2 separate regions of the Homo sapiens genome follow, and region 2 is linked to region 1. The links come from fine-mapping of genetic effects on gene expression. Tissue or cell type: thyroid. Region 1 holds a variant in brackets; the other region holds the start of a gene. All regions are shown on one strand. Distances are from middle to middle.

Region 1 (8,107 bases):
TTGTTGTATTTATTATTAACAATACTTAATGTTCCCTTTTCTTAATTAGGAAACTAAATAAGAAACAAAAATATAGTGCTTGCTTATAAAGGGATGTCTCAATTTTAGTTTTCCCTTGGCATTTGAGGAAAAACTGTTTACTCTGTCTATGTAAAATAGTGTCCTTGTGTCCCAAAATAGTTCATATAACTTCCTAAAATTGAGCTATCATTATAGGAACCAGGAGAACAGACTCATGATAATCCTTGGATTAGATTGTTGGACAATTAAAAACTGTTATGGACGACCGAAAAAAATGCAAACCTTAAGAGAATTCTGAAAATGATGCAAAAAAGGGAGAAGACTTAAAAAAAAAACAAACCCCAAGACACTGTGGCTGTAAAAAATGACAGGATATGACCGGGATCTGACACTGCAGAACAGGGCACAGAAATGGCTTGCCTGAAGCTAGAAATTTCACATCATATCCTTCAAGGGTACACATGATTGATGCTGAGCAGATAATCAGAATTCACTCCGGTAGAGCAGATAACTGATAACACAGTCTGCATGTCTCAGTTCATGTGCAATCAAAATGATCAAAATTCACCATCAGGCAGGGAGTGTAGTGTTATGAAATGCATAATATTTCCTTCTTGGGTAAAAGTGAATTTACATTTCATACTAGATAATAGGTTTTATATAATAAAATGACAATTTTTTTTCTAAGAACAATTTTATCCACTGAATGGAAGTATTGATTTGCAGTGAACACAAAGAATATGCTTATACAATAGAGAGGAAATTATTCTGTTGCAGATTTTATTGAATTTAAAGATCTTTTGTGTTGCTCTGCATCTTGATAGTTTAGGATGGGCAAAGATGGACCTAAATCTTCATTTTGGGAAAAAGCTGGAGAGAGACAAATTCTTCTGTAAAATGGAGTGGGGGCAAGCATGGAGTTCCTGGGGGCAATCTGGGATGAGGAGGCTGTGGAGGGAGAGGGGAGGTGAAAGAGAAGCCAGTGAAATCGAGCTAGGCAAGGGTGTGGTACAAGGTATTAGTGCTCAGGGAAGCGTCTCCAGTGCCCCCAAGAAGAGTATGGATATCTGATATCAAATTGAAGTGCTTTGCATTTCTGTAATGTAACCCCACATACCATTGCCCCACATCTTTAATAAAGTCTGTCCACAGAGGCCTCGCTTGAATGGTCTTGTGTAGGTGTAGCCTGAGGAAGGGGTGAGTTCCGTGCCTTTGCAGACATGGCACAGAAGTGGCACAGGCACTGTGTGTGCAGGCTGATGGGTGATCCCTCAAATGAACCTTGTTGGAAGCAGGAGTCAGAGCCACAGGAAGCCTGGGGAGGCCTGTGGGAGTTTAGGGGGACTTTCTAGCCAATCGATCTCAATCTGACTACACTTACTGAAGAAATGAGTGGAAGAACTCAAGGCTAAATTAAAAAAACAAACAAACTTGGAATCAGAACATTGGCATATTTGTGCAAACTGAAAGAGGCTATTATCTATACAGCATATACACATTCAAATGGCATAAAATATGAAAGCAGATCTATCATCTAGTCCCATGAAATCCTATGAATCCCCTTCACATGATTAAAAAAAAGGGGGATCTAAAACTGTCTAGGGCATGAGCTAATGAAAAACATTTACTTGTATACCTAGAAAATAAATGACAAGATGTCTCCCAGATTTTTGATAATTTTAATAGCAATTATATCTTGGGAGTAGAATTTTATTTTCTTCTTTATAATTTTTATACTTTTACAAAATTTCATTCACCAAATGTCTTAACTTTTTATCAGGAAAAAAAATCCAAACGCAAACCTGACATTTAAAAAAAAATATTATAGGTTAGAATTTGTTCCTGCTACATTGGTCAATGGGAACAAGTTTAGGCTACACAGTTTTTATTTTAATTTTTAAAAAAATTCTATGAAGAATAAACCCCAAGTAACACATGTGAAGAAAGTAACTTTATATTCACATTTTATTTATTTTGTTATTTCATGTTTTAGTTTTTTGGATCTATTCCACTTTAAAAAAGGCCATGTCAAAGGCCAGGTTACTAAGCTATCATAGAACTACAGTGGTTAATAAAGAATCAAGTTATATGTAACTGACAACTACTAATAAGCAACAATCTCCAGACAATCTCTTGCTCTGGGGGCCAGAGTATCAAAAGTAAGAGTGCTGGCTCATCCTCAAGATCTGTCCAGCAAGCAGCAACGACATAATTATGCTGAGGGTAGTGAGAGTCTAGATCACTAAATTTTGAGCTATGAGGAAGCTGAGCTAGAGATAAGTCCTGGGAGTCTTCAAATTCCAAGAAAAGCAGAAAATGCTTCATAAGAAAAAAAGACAATGTGTAGCCTGGATGCCTGAAGCACAGATTCCATCCTAGAGTAGCATTCAAATGTATTTTTAAACAAGATGGATGGATTCTTATAGGTCCCAGAAATAGTATGGCTTGGTTTACATGCAAGAACTCACCCACAAACTAATAAAGGCAGAAAAAAATAAATGGTCTGAGGAAGTGTCCCGTGATCACTCACCCACCTGAATTTGGAGCACAGCTAGGTCGGCATCCAGGGACCTCTTGGCTGGCAGTAATTTCTGGGTCACACAAATTTGTCTTTGCTTCTCAGCAATCTTCATTTTCAGGAATTGGATCTTTTCTTCCAGTAGATGTATTTCAATTTCTCCATTTAGTTTCATCTTCTCTTGGATATTTATTTTTTCATAAAAAATGCATATTTCTTCTTCCCGCTCTATCAGCTGAACGCCACTATGGTCAAATTCAGAGGCAGAGGCTAAGTGGGCATTGAGACCACCGTTTTACTAGTCATTGTGGTTCCCTCTGGCTTTGGATGCAAGATATACACAACATAGCATACTTCCAGAGGATCACAGATAGTCACCAATGGCTTTCTAGTTAAATTACATCCACACTTTGGAATTCTCTAGGGATAGGAGGGTTACTGAGCCTCTCAACTTTGAGGCTGACCATGTGGTTGGCTAGCCACAATGTCTCTGAAAGTCCCAAAGGTTTTCCTGGGGTGGGAAAGAATGTCATTCCCAATGCACAAACAAAGTGATCCCATAGTCTGATTTTCTGCAGATCCTTTTCTCGGGTCAGACTTGCCAACCAAGGCCTGGCCAGAAGCACACAGGCAGGGGGCCAGGGAATGTAGTTCTGGTGTGAGTCTGCTCTATATTAAGTTGCTAGGCCCATTAGTTTCTTCTCAAGTTGAATATTTCTGGTTGTGATTTCCCCATAAACAGGCAAAAATCTATCCTTTGTAATCATGCCAGGAGAAAGACCCCTCCTTGAATGGAGAATATGGGGAGGAAACAAAGTAAGAATGTTCTAACCCCAGCAGCTCTGGTCTGCATGACCGATCATGCACCACTGATCTGAGTGGCACCTGGGTGCACACTGTTTGTCCAAACGCTTTGGTTTGTGCCAGGAGCTGAATAGCATTTTTTTTCTCCCCTGGAGAAAAACCTACCAGCCCTTTGAAAATGTGCTGTTCTTCAAAGGACCCTAAAGGTCTTCCCACACATTATGCATATACATTATTTCAGAGTTCCTCCTTTAATTGCTTCTATCTATGACTCCCCTTCCTCAAAACATGCATGCATGTGGTTGTACTCAGCTAATCCCAGCTCTATATTTTGTCTGTTTTCCTTTCAAAGGCTCAAGATCAAGTTCTCTTGACAACAGAAGCCAGGAACAATGTTTTACCACTTTTTTGTACTCTCAAGGTCTAGCACTCTAATGCCTTATACAGAATAGCACACAATCAAAGTTTGCTTAAAAAAAATCTGATACCAGATGTCATTATCACAGGGCTCTGCAAATTTCACATTCCAATTTCTCAGAGCACAAGTAACTTGGGAGAAACTGCTGAAGTAAACATTGATTAATGATATAACTGCAACCTGGAAGAAATAATGCTACTCCTAAAGGTCTTACTAACTTGCTGAGCAAATGAACTAGGAGAATGGCTAAATATAATAAGACCAAACTTACCACAACATTGGGTACAAGTTCCACACTTATTTATGTCAATTATGCTGAAAGAATCTGATGTTATAAGAGGCAACCCGAATGACCACTTAGGAAAGGACATTGATCTTCAAAAGCAAGCAACTTTCCCAAACCCCTCCTCTTTGCCTGTTTATGA[CATAG/G]GACGGTATTTCTTTCTTTCTCTCTTTTTTTTTTTTTGTTTGTTTTTGGAGACGGAGTCTTGCTCTGTTGCCCAGGCTATAGTGCAGTGGCACGATCTCAGCTCACTGCAACCTCTGCCTCCCGGGTTCAAGCGATTCTCGTGCTGCAGCTTCCCAAGTAGCTGGGATTACAGGCCCCCACCACCACACCTGGCTAATTTCTTGTATTTTTAGTAGGGATGGGGTTTCACCCTATTGCCCAGGCTGGTCTCGAACTCCTGAGCTCAAGTGATCCACCCACCTTGGCCTCCCAAAGTGCTGGGATCATGCCACTGTGCCCAGCGTGAGGACAGTGTTTCTTATTTTCCAGGGAAGCAACACACAGTCCCTTCTCTCCAAAGGCTAATGCAACCTGAATATCACATTTCCCTCACTATTCACTGTCAAGTCTAGATAGAAAAAGAGGTGACATTCCTCAGTTGGATCCCTGGTGCTCTGTTCTCACACCTGGTTTTTACCTTTCATTTCGATGCTGAACAGCTTTTTCGTATCTTTTGCGAAGCTGCACCATCTCCTCTTCGATCATTGTGATCGTGTTGGCAAGTCTGTCAATGTTATTTAACTGGGCTTCCTTCTTTTCTTTCATTTCCTGAAGTTTTGATACAATTTTGCGCACATCGTTTTGCATGCTCTCTCTGATGGTAACATTGTTGGCGTGTTTCAGCATGGAATTTTGTAGCTTTCTTTTAAAGTAATAAGACAATGGGTAAGATTATAATTTTCTTTAGTTTATTTAAAAGGAATGAAGGCTTCTGAAACACAAGCACTATCAAAGCAGACCTTGCTTTAGTGTAGCCCTTGAAATGATACTAGTAATAATGATATTCATCTTATGATACTCTTCAGGAATTTTCATAATCCTTCCAGGTCTCAGATTTTCTCTGCTCCAGATTAGAACATCTTTCCTTTTCCCCCCAATGTTCTGCTGACCCCCTTTATCAAAGCGAGAGACTGCAGTCATTCATTTATTGTCATTCTCAGGAGACTGCTGTCTTGAGGACAGAGATGGTTATATCCAATAATGTCCACTGGACATAAGGTGGTGCCTGACTCAGCCTGTGGCCACAATAAATGCTGAATGAATGCATGGCCTCTATAAATGTATTTTATTTTCAAGTTGGATGAGAACCTGATTAGGAAATCATATTTTTCTTTTCATCCACCCCCGACCCCTGAAATGAGGCCACTTTATAATTGCTTTGTTGAAGGAAACTGGGCAATAATGGCCATCAGAAAATTAGATTATACCCTGATCGTGTACTGTTTACTAACATAGGTGAAAGAGTCCAGAAGATCTTGGCACATGGTAAATAATAAATGAAGAAAACAACCATTTGCCAGACGCTTTTCTGAGTGTTTTTATATGAATTAGCTCATTTCACAGTAAAATGTCGCATGAAATATGGTATGGATAAGGAAAGTGAGCTCAGAGAGACAAAGCAGCTTGTCCAAGGTTACAGAGGTAATAAGTGGGAGGGGTGGTATTTGAGTCTGGACACCACCTCTTTCACCAATCTGCTATAACGTATTGCCTCCCACAACACATGAGATGCTTTACATCTACAATCAGGGGATGTTGGTTAACAAACGATTTGATTGTTTTCTAACTTCCCAATCCCAATTATTAGATTTGTGCTTTTCTTTCTAATTGGGCAGGTGAAAATCATCATAGTAAGCATAGTTATATGTTATGGTTTTTCATTCATTAAAAAAATGACTCCCAAAGAGTAGAAGCATGGTAGATTATCATCTATAAAACAAGATGTTTGAACAAGGGCTTTTTCTGGATTTCTAATTCTGGCTTTCTAAAATACTATTCTTTTTATTTTTTATTTTTATTATTTTTTTGAGACAGGGTCTCATTCTGTCACCCAGGCTGGAGGGCAGTGGCACCATCTTGGCTCATTGCAGCCTCTGCCTCTTTCCTATCTTCTTATCCCCAGGATTTTTAGAGTTCAAATGAATCAGAAAACAAGCCTTTGAAAGGCCAATAGTTATTATAACACTTACCTTTCTTGACTAACGGCACTATTTCTCAGAATTTCAAGTTCATTTAATGACATTTTATGCCTTTCTTTTATTTCATTTACTTTCTGATGAGCTTTGTGGAGTAAGTTAACAAATTTGTTTCTTTCATTTCGAATGGTGTCATACAGTTTAGCAAACTCTCTCAGTCTGTAAAAATACAAAGTGTTTACTGAAACTTATGAAATGAACATCAGGTTTTTTTCCCCTCACCTACGTAGATAAAACACCACATAATTACTTTACCTCCGATAAATTTCACATTTTTTCTTCTTGTGTATCCTGATTTCAAGATCCTTTGCTTTCATTTCTTTAACAATGTTGGTGTATTTTTGCTGAAATGTACAAAAAAATGTGAAATAAATAACAACATATGAACACTCCCAGATTTATCCCACATCATTCCCTTCCATTAAAGACAATTCTCCAGCCTAGGCAACATAGTGAGACCTCATCTCTACAAAAATAAAAAAATTATCTGGGTATGGTGGTGTGCACCTGTAGTCCCAGCTACTCAGGAGGCTGAGGTGGGAGGATCGCTCGAGCCCAAGAATTCGAGGCTGCAGTGAGCCATGATTGCATCACTCCGCTCCAGCCTGGGCGACAAAGTAAGATCCTGTCTCTCCAAAAAAAAAAAAAAAAAAAAAAAAATTATTTCTTGGCTTGCTGGGTTGTACAGATCAGGGTGAAGGGTAAAAGAGATCTGAAAATTCCCTGGCTAGCTGAACTGATTCACATTGGCTAAGACAAACTGTTAACTGTTACCTAAAGAAGAGAACAAACGAGAGAAGAGAAAACGCAAAGAGCCTGCATGGCTTGGGTTTGAGGAAAAGTTTGGACAACTTTTGAGAGAGAGGAAGAGTGATTTTGAACCACACAGCTGGACTGGGTGAGTGTAGTTTATGGAAAATAGATGAGAGAAGAGGATTCCTAGTAAGTTTTGGTGAGTGTTATAAACTGAACCCTCTGTGGTGTTTTGTCAGAGACTGAAGCAATGATTTTAAAGTGCTTTCCATTCTTTTGTATGTGGGGTGTTTTCCTACATAATAAGGCATCATATTGAGATCAGCTGTAAGGAGGTGTTACACATAAATATTTTAAAAGAAAGCAGTTATATTTCTAGAGTTCTAAAAAATATATCAAGTGCTAAATACACTAGTTATGTTCTTCAAATCAAAAGATACTGGTTCTTGCATCTGGGATAAGAAACATATTCAAAAATGAAGGATTTGCTGGTAGTAAACCAGAGGAAAGAGTTTGTCAGCCTTCTCTCAAGGACTGAGAGCAAAGCCCTTTTGGTATGAGTGATTTGAAAGAAACTAGCCATAGAGCCAAGATTGATGTGTAGCATTTTTCTAATGCTGTTCTCCATGAGAATAGGGGTCAGGAAGAAACGAATATTTAAGTAACTGTACACATGAATAATAAAACAGATGGGAAAATGTAGTGTCATCTATTCTGTCTTAGGGGTGATAGTGACATTGTTTTTTTTTCTTCACCTTTGTCTTTAGGGATGTGGATGCAATGTGAACATAAAAGATTGCCTTCTTATGGAAACTGCAGCTAAGTACAGGTAATGTTTAACACACTAATTCCTAATGCTAAAAATACTCAAGGGATAAACATTTGTCCTTTATCAATTTCTGTATCTCAAGAAGAATTGTCTATTTTGGTTTAATACAAATTAGCTCATTTAATAATGAGGTTTGCTTTACATAGATTAGTCACACATAGATATACATGTATATCAGTTTTTGAAATTAATTGAAAATTATCTAATTCATAAAACGGATCAGTGTTTCTTATAACAAATAAGTATACCTCTGGTGTTTCTGTAATTTCTAAAGAGAAAA
Region 2 (8,107 bases), 160 kb after region 1:
GTCTCCTCTGAGCTCTTGTAACACTTAATAAAGCTCATCTTCGTCTCGTTCACCCTTCACTTGTCTGCGTACCTCATTCTTCCTGGATGCAGGACAAGAATTCGGGCAAAGGTGCTGTGGCCACAGAGGTTTCTGGCCAGGAAATTGACAACCCAAAACTCCCTGACAATAACATGATGAAATGTAGCTTATTGAGGGAATGAAACACTTGAAAATCAATCACTGTAATACACATATCAATAAATCAGAAGAAAAACAATATGATCATCTTCATAGATACAGAAAAAGCATTTGACAAAATGCAACATTCACTTATGATAAAAAGTCTAAGCAAATTAGAAAGTAAACTTCCTTAACTTGCTAAAGGGCATCTTTAAAAATCTACTGCTAACTTCCTAATTGTTGTTGAAATTTCCCTCATAAATAGGAAATAAATCAAGGATTTTTGCTTTTGCCACTCCAACTCAATATTGTAGTGGCGGTCTTAGCCAGTGCAATAACACTAGGAAAGAAAAGCCATACAGATGAGAAAGGAAGAAATAAAACTGTCTATTTGCAGTTTCACATAGAGATTTCAAATAGAATTAGTACCTATATATATTCATTAAATACTTCTCAATGTTGATAGTTATTAGTTAAGATTGTTGAGTTTATTAATATTTCATAAGAATAATAGAAGTCATAAGATATATCTCTTTTTAAATAGTTTATAATTCAGAAAGTTAAATTCTTATGGCTTTTCTCTTAAGCTAAATTGCTGAATTCTTTGTTTTGGTTACCTTTTCTTCTGAAAACTCTCTTATGACCTCTGCTGTCCATTTATTGAACATAAATCATTAAATAAAATATTCGTTGACATTTATATCTAGATGGTAAGAAATCTTCTGCCCATCTGATTATTTGAGTCAGTTTTAGGAAACAATATATGCTAAGAAATGCTTTAAAATTGTTTTCTTATAAATGTAATATATTTTCACTATTGATAACACACAAAAAATTGCAGTAACCACTCATCATATCACTGCTTAAAGATAACAACTGTTATCAAGTGGTATATATCCCTCTGGAATTGTTTCTGTAAAGTATAATTTTATGTTAAATTTATTATTATTATTACACAATTGAGATCATACTATACGTGCAATTTTGTATATATTCTTTTCACTTTATATATGGACTATTTCCCATATCAAGATATGTTTAAATTGTTGCATAATATATCAGCTATATACTAATTTATGTAATACTGTCTTATTTGGGAGCATTTAACATTTTTTTATTGAGACAGAGTTTCACTCTTGCCGCCCAGGCTGGAGTGCAGTGGTGTGATCTCGGCTCACTGCAACCTCTACCTCCTGTGTTTAAGTGATTCTCCTGTCTCAGCCTCCTGAGTAGCTGGGATTACAGGTGTCCATCACTACGCCAAGCTAATTTTTTTAATTTTTAGTAGAGATGGAGTTTCACCATGTTGGCCAGGCTGGTCCTGAACTCCTGACCTCAGGTGATCCACCTGTCTCAGCCTCCCAAAGTGCTGAAATTACAGGCATGAGCCACTGCACCTGGCCAGGGAGCATTTAAATTGATGCAATTATTTTCTCTTACAAGTAACCCTATAAAACATAATTCCTTGAGCATCCCTAATTTTATGCTTACATCCCCAAAAGCACAATTTCTGAGTCATAGAAAAAGCTTTTCATTCTTATTGCTGAATTGAACTCTAAAAATTTTGTGCTAACTTAACACTCCTACCAGAAGTATATGTTCATGACCACAGAAATAGCTTTTTTAAACTAAGATGTGAAAATATCTTAGAAACAAACTCTAAATAAGGAGAAAAAAGTTGTATATAATTTTCTACTTATGAGGTGAATAATTTCATTTTTTCTTCAAAGGTGTCAGGAAAATGGACGTTTTGGTAGAGTGATAAAAGGGCCAGACCTTCTAATTGCTTAATCTTAATGTTTCTGAATCTGTTTCCCCATCTATAGTGTGAGGAGAATAATTTCCCTCCTAATTAGTGAGGATACAGTGAGATGACGCATGTGAACATGGTTTGACAATTATAATGTCATATGGATGGAAGATACAACTTTTATTAATCATTGTTGATATGTGGACAGATTTGATACTCATTATACTGTTTTTAAGTGTCTATAACTTTAACTATTTTATACCAATCTTAATATTAATAATTTTCTCCATTTTCAACCTTGTATGATCAGCAAAGTAAATTTTCAGTCAATTCTATTTGGTTTTTGTTTGAAAAAGTAAAATAATGATTATGCAACATAGAAAATTATAGTTCAGTTGCCAATTCCATTAACTTAGTTTGTCTCAGAAACGGAAAAATTACCATAGACACAGAATTAACTATTAAGAATTAATATTTAATCTAAAAATGTCTAGTGTTTCTACAGAAAATTTGAGTACATTCTCAACTTCCTTAAACCAGTGCCTTTTTCAAATTTCTTTTCAAAGTTACACCTGTCAATTTTCATAAAAAATAGTTTGAAGATTATTCTGAATAATTATAACCAATGAAACACAAAGACAAGAAAAGAACTATTGCAGTGGGCCCTTGCTGAACCTGAGCTAGCACCTATAATGAGTGAGTCTTCACCGAAAGAAGAATAAGGAGGGAGCAAGGACTAGAAGGACAGAAAAGAGGCAATGATAACTTAAGAGAACACTGAATTTTTAAAAATTTTAAAAAGGTAGTGGCTAGCAGAGAACCTGAGACTTGTACCCATGAGAACTTTAGCCCAGTCTATCTATCACGATAGCCCCAAGAATTCTGGTCATTGTACTTGGGTAAGGGCTTCAATTTTTTAAGGCACTTGCATTTTATGAAATGTTAGTGTTTGCAGGTGTCTTGGCTAAATAATTTAGGGAATACATTTTAGGAGGAAGTAGGGGCACAGAGGGGGAGAGAGAAACCAGGCAGGAAAGAAGAAAAAAAGAAGAAAATAAATCTTTCTGTTCCCATTATTTTACTGCCCATAGAATTATAAAAGGTAAACACACACACACACACACACACACACACACACACACACACACACACACACACACCTTATAGGGTCATTTAGAACCATCTTTCTTCATTTTAAAACTAAAGAAACAGGTCTAGGTGACACAGATGAAGCAGTGGCAGAGCCAGGAAAATAATCTGACCCTTGTCCCTGCTCTTTCCACCGCACCATGGTGACTCTCTTTTTTGTGTCTTTTTTTTTTTCACTCTAAAACTGATGATCATTTGTAGTCAAAGAGATCAATGCTATTCTCAAAACAAGTTCTGATCTCTCATAATTTTCTTGGTAACTCAGAATCAATGTTAAGTACGTTGAAATAAAAATACAGTACTTTACACGGTAATTTGGTAGACTGTGCACCACGGTCCCATCCATTTTCTTACTTGATCCTCACAAAAACCCTTTGAGGCAAGGCAAGGAAGGTATTATCATCTACATTTTTAAAGTGAGCAAATTAAAACCCAAAGTAAGGTCACTTAGGGTCAGGACGGAGCAAGTACTCTATTCCTATATTTGGAATATAGGAGGGAATACACTTCCAAAGAGGCAATTCCCTCAAAAAGCACCAATCTTGCTCTTTACTCTCTTACCAAGGCATTCTCCATGCCCTGGAGATGCCCGCACTAGGTTAGTGAAGCTTGGATCTTGACATCCACATAGGTTACTCCTAGTTTGCACCTAGTTGTCAACTTAAAAAGCGCAGTTTCTTACCCCTTCCCTTGGTCCTGATCCTTATTTAGGCTCCTATTTTTCTCTTTGGGATTTGGCCTCCTGGGTCTCACTCCAAAGCTCCACCCTCTCCAAACAAGAAGTCGCGTCCTTGGTATCCAAGGTGACCATGCAGCTTTACCCTCGTTGCCCCCTTCCGTGCTTCCCATTGGCCAGTGGCCTCCCATGTACCGCCCCTCCAATAGCCAATGGTCTTGAAACAAAGGGCGCCCGCCTTTCCAGCGATTCTAACACCTGCCCTCTTACCCGTGCTCCCCTGCGCATTGCCTCCTGGGATATGTGGTTTCTAAGAGGCGGAGCTCTGCGACTTTCCACCGCTTTAGAACTACGTATCCCGTCGGCCTTAGCGAAAGGGGGTGGACTTAGGCAAGGGGTCCAGGTCAGAGTTCAGAGCTTTCAAATCCCAACTTGCCCCTGGGGATTACGCAGCTGATGTTTACATCGCCTAGTCAAGCCAACCGGCTCGCTCTTGTTTCAGCAAACCCTGACTTACGTCTCCTATTTGACTTGAGGCGGCACAGTGGCCAAGTCGATTGGCCGTGGCAAGTGACCCTCCCTGTGGCTGAAGTGTTCTGAGGACTGGCGAGAGAGGCGCGCCATGCTTGCCCCCTGTTCAGGTTGGGAGCTTGGCTGCTTCCGTCTCTGTCTCCGTCAGGTCCGACTGTGGGCTGGCGCTGGGCGCTGGTCTTGCTGGGCTTGCCAAGCCAGGCCGTACAGCTCAGGTAGGGGCGAGCGCTGGCCCGGATCGGAGACTGAGGTCCCTCCGCCTGGCCCGGCGCGCCGAACTCTGAAGGAGTGGACACTGCAGGTGAGCCCGTTCGGTCGGCTGCGGGCGCGGCTCCCGTGCCACCTGGCCGTGAGGCCCCTGGACCCCCTCACCTACCCGGATGGCGACCGCGTGCTGGTCGCGGTGTGCGGCGTGGAGGGCGGCGTGCGGGGCCTGGACGGCCTGCAGGTGAAGTACGACGAGGATCTGGAGGAGATGGCCATTGTGTCTGATACTATCCACCCCCAGGCGTCCGTGGAGGTGAACGCGCCCCTGAAGTTTGGCAAGTGAAGTGAAGTGAAAACGGGTTTGGGTCCCAGGGAACGCACAGTGAACTTAATAAATTTGGTCGACGTGCACTTTTAATTGGTCCTGGCTTTCTAAACCTAATTTACAGTTGGCCCCTTCGGAAATGCAACTTTTCCTCTGTTCTATTCTTGAGTATCCGAGTAGTATTTAAAAAATTAGGTTCCCAATTATAGAAATTTTATACATCGAATGGAAACACGATTTGGTATAATCCAGGTCAAATTCTATTTCTGGAGCCGCTTGTGTTCTTCTTTATCCCGTTGTCATTAGCAAACTGGCTTATTTTTCAAGGTTGAAGTTTCTTGACAATTCATTCAATGGTATGGCAGTCCATCTACATTTCCCCTTGCTCACAGCCTGGGGGTGTGTCCCAAAACAGCCCTGTCAATAGGATGTTCCAGGTACCACCTGGTTTGAGTATTTGGTTTTAGACGGGCGCCCAGCTTCTTACTGTTATGTTTCCATTCTTTTTGGCCTAAGTTTTCCATGAGTAGCAAGCTTTGAAGAAAAACACATGGTAAGCCTGCCTAGGAAGCTTCAATAATAATGCCTGCAAGATACCTTTCTTAGGTTTTCCTAAATGGCAAGCCACTGTGTACACACACTTTTCTAGGAAGGGCTCCCCAGACTGTCATTCTTCCTGGGACTGAAGGAAGATATTGATGATGATGATGATGGTAATAATAATAGCATTTAGCATTTTTAAGATCATCTTTTATAATGCTTACAGTTGCCCAAATAGTAGATGCCGTAGTCCTCCCTTATCCACCGTTTGGCTGTCTGAGTTTGTTACCTGCCTCAACTGTTGTAGGAAAATATTAAGATATTTTGACAGATCACAGTAATATAACTTTTATTACAGTATATTGTTATAATTGCTGTATTTATTATTATTGTTGTTCATCTCTTACTATGCCTAGTTTATAAATTAAACTTGATCATTGATATGTATACAGGAAAAAACATAGAATATATAGGATTTGGTACTATTTGTGGTTTCAGGAATCAAGTCGGGGGGGCGGGTCTTGCCTACTTTAAGAGAAATCATCAATATTTATGTTAATTCCAAATTAAATATCAGCGTTTTTAATTTTTAAAATTTGTATACAGCGATGCCTGCAGTTACATCTTAAATAGACAGCCAAGGATGGCATTTGTAATTCCTTATTTTCCAAACTTGCTTCATGTACCACTGCCATTTGTCCACAATCTTGTGGGGTTTTTTGTTTGTTTGTTTTGGTTTTTTTTGAGACTGCATCTCACTCACTCTGCCATGCAGGCTGGAGTACAGGTGCACAATCATGGCCCACTGCAGTCTTGACTTCACGGTTTTAAGCAATCTTCTCGCCTCCGCCTCCTGAGTAGCTGGGACTACAGGTGCATGCTACCATGCCTGGCTAATGTTTTTGTTTTTTTGTAGAAAGGGAGTTTTGCCACATTGTCCAGGCTGGTCTTGAACTCCTGGGCTTCAAGCAATCCTCCTTCCTCGGCCTCCCAAAGTGCTGGTATTACAGGCATGAGCCACGGCTCATGGCCTAATCTTGTAGTTTTAATAGTATATATTAGGTTTTTCAAAGTTGTTCCCATTTTTAAAAAATTACTTCAAATACCTTGTGATATAGTTGCATGGTAATATTTTCATTTTTTAAGTATGAAAGGTTAGACATAGGATTTGAAAACCTAAGTCATGATCATATATACTGGGGAAGAGGCTTCTACAGTCTTTCACAGGAGTACTTAACAGAATCGTAGTCTCCTTTACTTCCCATCTATGTTAGTTCTCTTTAGGTGATTTAGGCCAGTAGAAATAACTGCTCTGTTTCTAAAAACGGGCAGAAAGGCTATTGTATTTGGTCCCGTTGCCGTGGTAGAAGACCCCTTACCTTTACAGTATGCACTTTCCAGGATTCAGCAATATTATGGACATAACTGAGGAGTTGGGTTTCTAGGTTAAAATGCTTTGGAGCTTATAAACTGCAGTACTAACTTGCTTTTTTCTTTTTTTACTTCTAGGTTTAGATATCAAGTCATCAGGGTCTGGCTGTGTAGAAGTTCAAAGTATTGAGGGTGATAATTGCAAAATTGAAACAGAGCATGGGACTAGCATCTTGCAGTCTGTTAAGGTATAGCATTTTTCTAATTTTATTTCACTATTATTTTTTTAAAAGCCTTAAGCTATGAATCGTACTATCAAACTCAAGAGATTCTTCTGTTTTTCAGAACATTGTCATTTATTCATCTCTCAGAAAGTCCTTGGCAAACATTTTGCCTTGAAATCAGTTCTAGTAAAGTACAGAGGTTATAGCAGTTTTGAGGTTTTGCCTCAAATTTCTTTTTGATTTAATTTCAAAGTGTACAGTGAAACTAATAGTATTTTCCTAGTATTCTGAAATCTTACTAAAGAAATTTTAGTTTCCACAAATGATTTTCTTCCATTTTATTAAAGAGTAAGGAAGAATCTTTGTGCACTATAAATGTGCTTAAATATTAGATGACTTTAATCACATTTTTAATGTACCAGGTAGCTAGCTCATTACTTAAGGATTAAGTAGTTATTTGTGCAAAGTAACATATGATTCATCTTGTTTTGTAATTAAATTTTTTTTTTTTTTTGAGACGGAGTCTTACTCTGTCACCAGGCTGGAGTGCAGTGGTGCAATCTCAGCTCACTGCAACCTCTGACTCCCTGGTACAAGCAATTCTCCTGCCTCAGCCTCCCAAGTAGCTGGGATTACAGGCATGCACCACCACACTCAGTTAATGTTTGTATATTTAGTAGAGACAGGGTTTCACCATGTTGGCCAGGCTGGTCTCGATCTCCTGACCTCGTGATCCGCCTGCCTTGGCCTCCCAAAGTGCTAGGATTACAGGCATGAGCCACTGCGCCCGGCTGTAATTAATTTTTTTTTTTTTTAGTGTTTTCTTTGTAGAGACAGGGTCTCACTGTATTGCGCCAGGCTGGTCTTGAACTCATGGGCTCAAGTGATCCTCCTGCCTTGGGCTCATGAAGTGCTGGGATTACAGGTGTGAGTCACCATGACTGACCTATATTTAATTTTTTAAAGATTAGACTGGTGTTAGCTGTAAATAGTTTGAAATACCTCTCTGATAGGTGCTAGCTTATCGTTACTCTTAGTGCTTCTTGCATTTGCATAGTCAAAACTTGATACTTTTGTGAACTTTGAAAGCATGCAATTTTGTTGAAGTCAGTCATCTTTGCTTCATAATTGCAAAATATTTTCATTTTTAGATTTCTAAACACTAGTTAGAA

What was found. PIP is the estimated chance that this variant, and not a neighbour inherited with it, causes the effect.
Region 2: it holds the start of CCDC146, and the variant in region 1 is fine-mapped to the expression of CCDC146 in thyroid (GTEx, PIP above 0.99).

Annotation. Positions count from the first base shown.
Region 1 is chr7:77,277,234-77,285,340 of GRCh38, reverse strand. CCDC146 (coiled-coil domain containing 146) reads right to left here. Exons shown (of 19, transcript NM_020879.3): 12 at 6,501-6,589; 13 at 6,240-6,404; 14 at 4,688-4,912; 15 at 2,556-2,784. It overlaps LOC102723791 (a long non-coding RNA gene), which reads left to right and starts at 6,989. Exons shown (of 6, transcript XR_927688.3): 1 at 6,989-7,197; 2 at 7,766-7,827. The variant CATAG/G (reference allele first, on the strand shown) is at 4,187.
Region 2 is chr7:77,118,369-77,126,475 of GRCh38, reverse strand. It overlaps CCDC146 (coiled-coil domain containing 146), which reads right to left and starts at 3,861. Exons shown (of 19, transcript NM_020879.3): 1 at 3,744-3,861. It also overlaps the pseudogene FAM185BP. RefSeq lists a silencer at 4,076-4,175 and enhancers at 4,071-4,570, 4,571-5,072.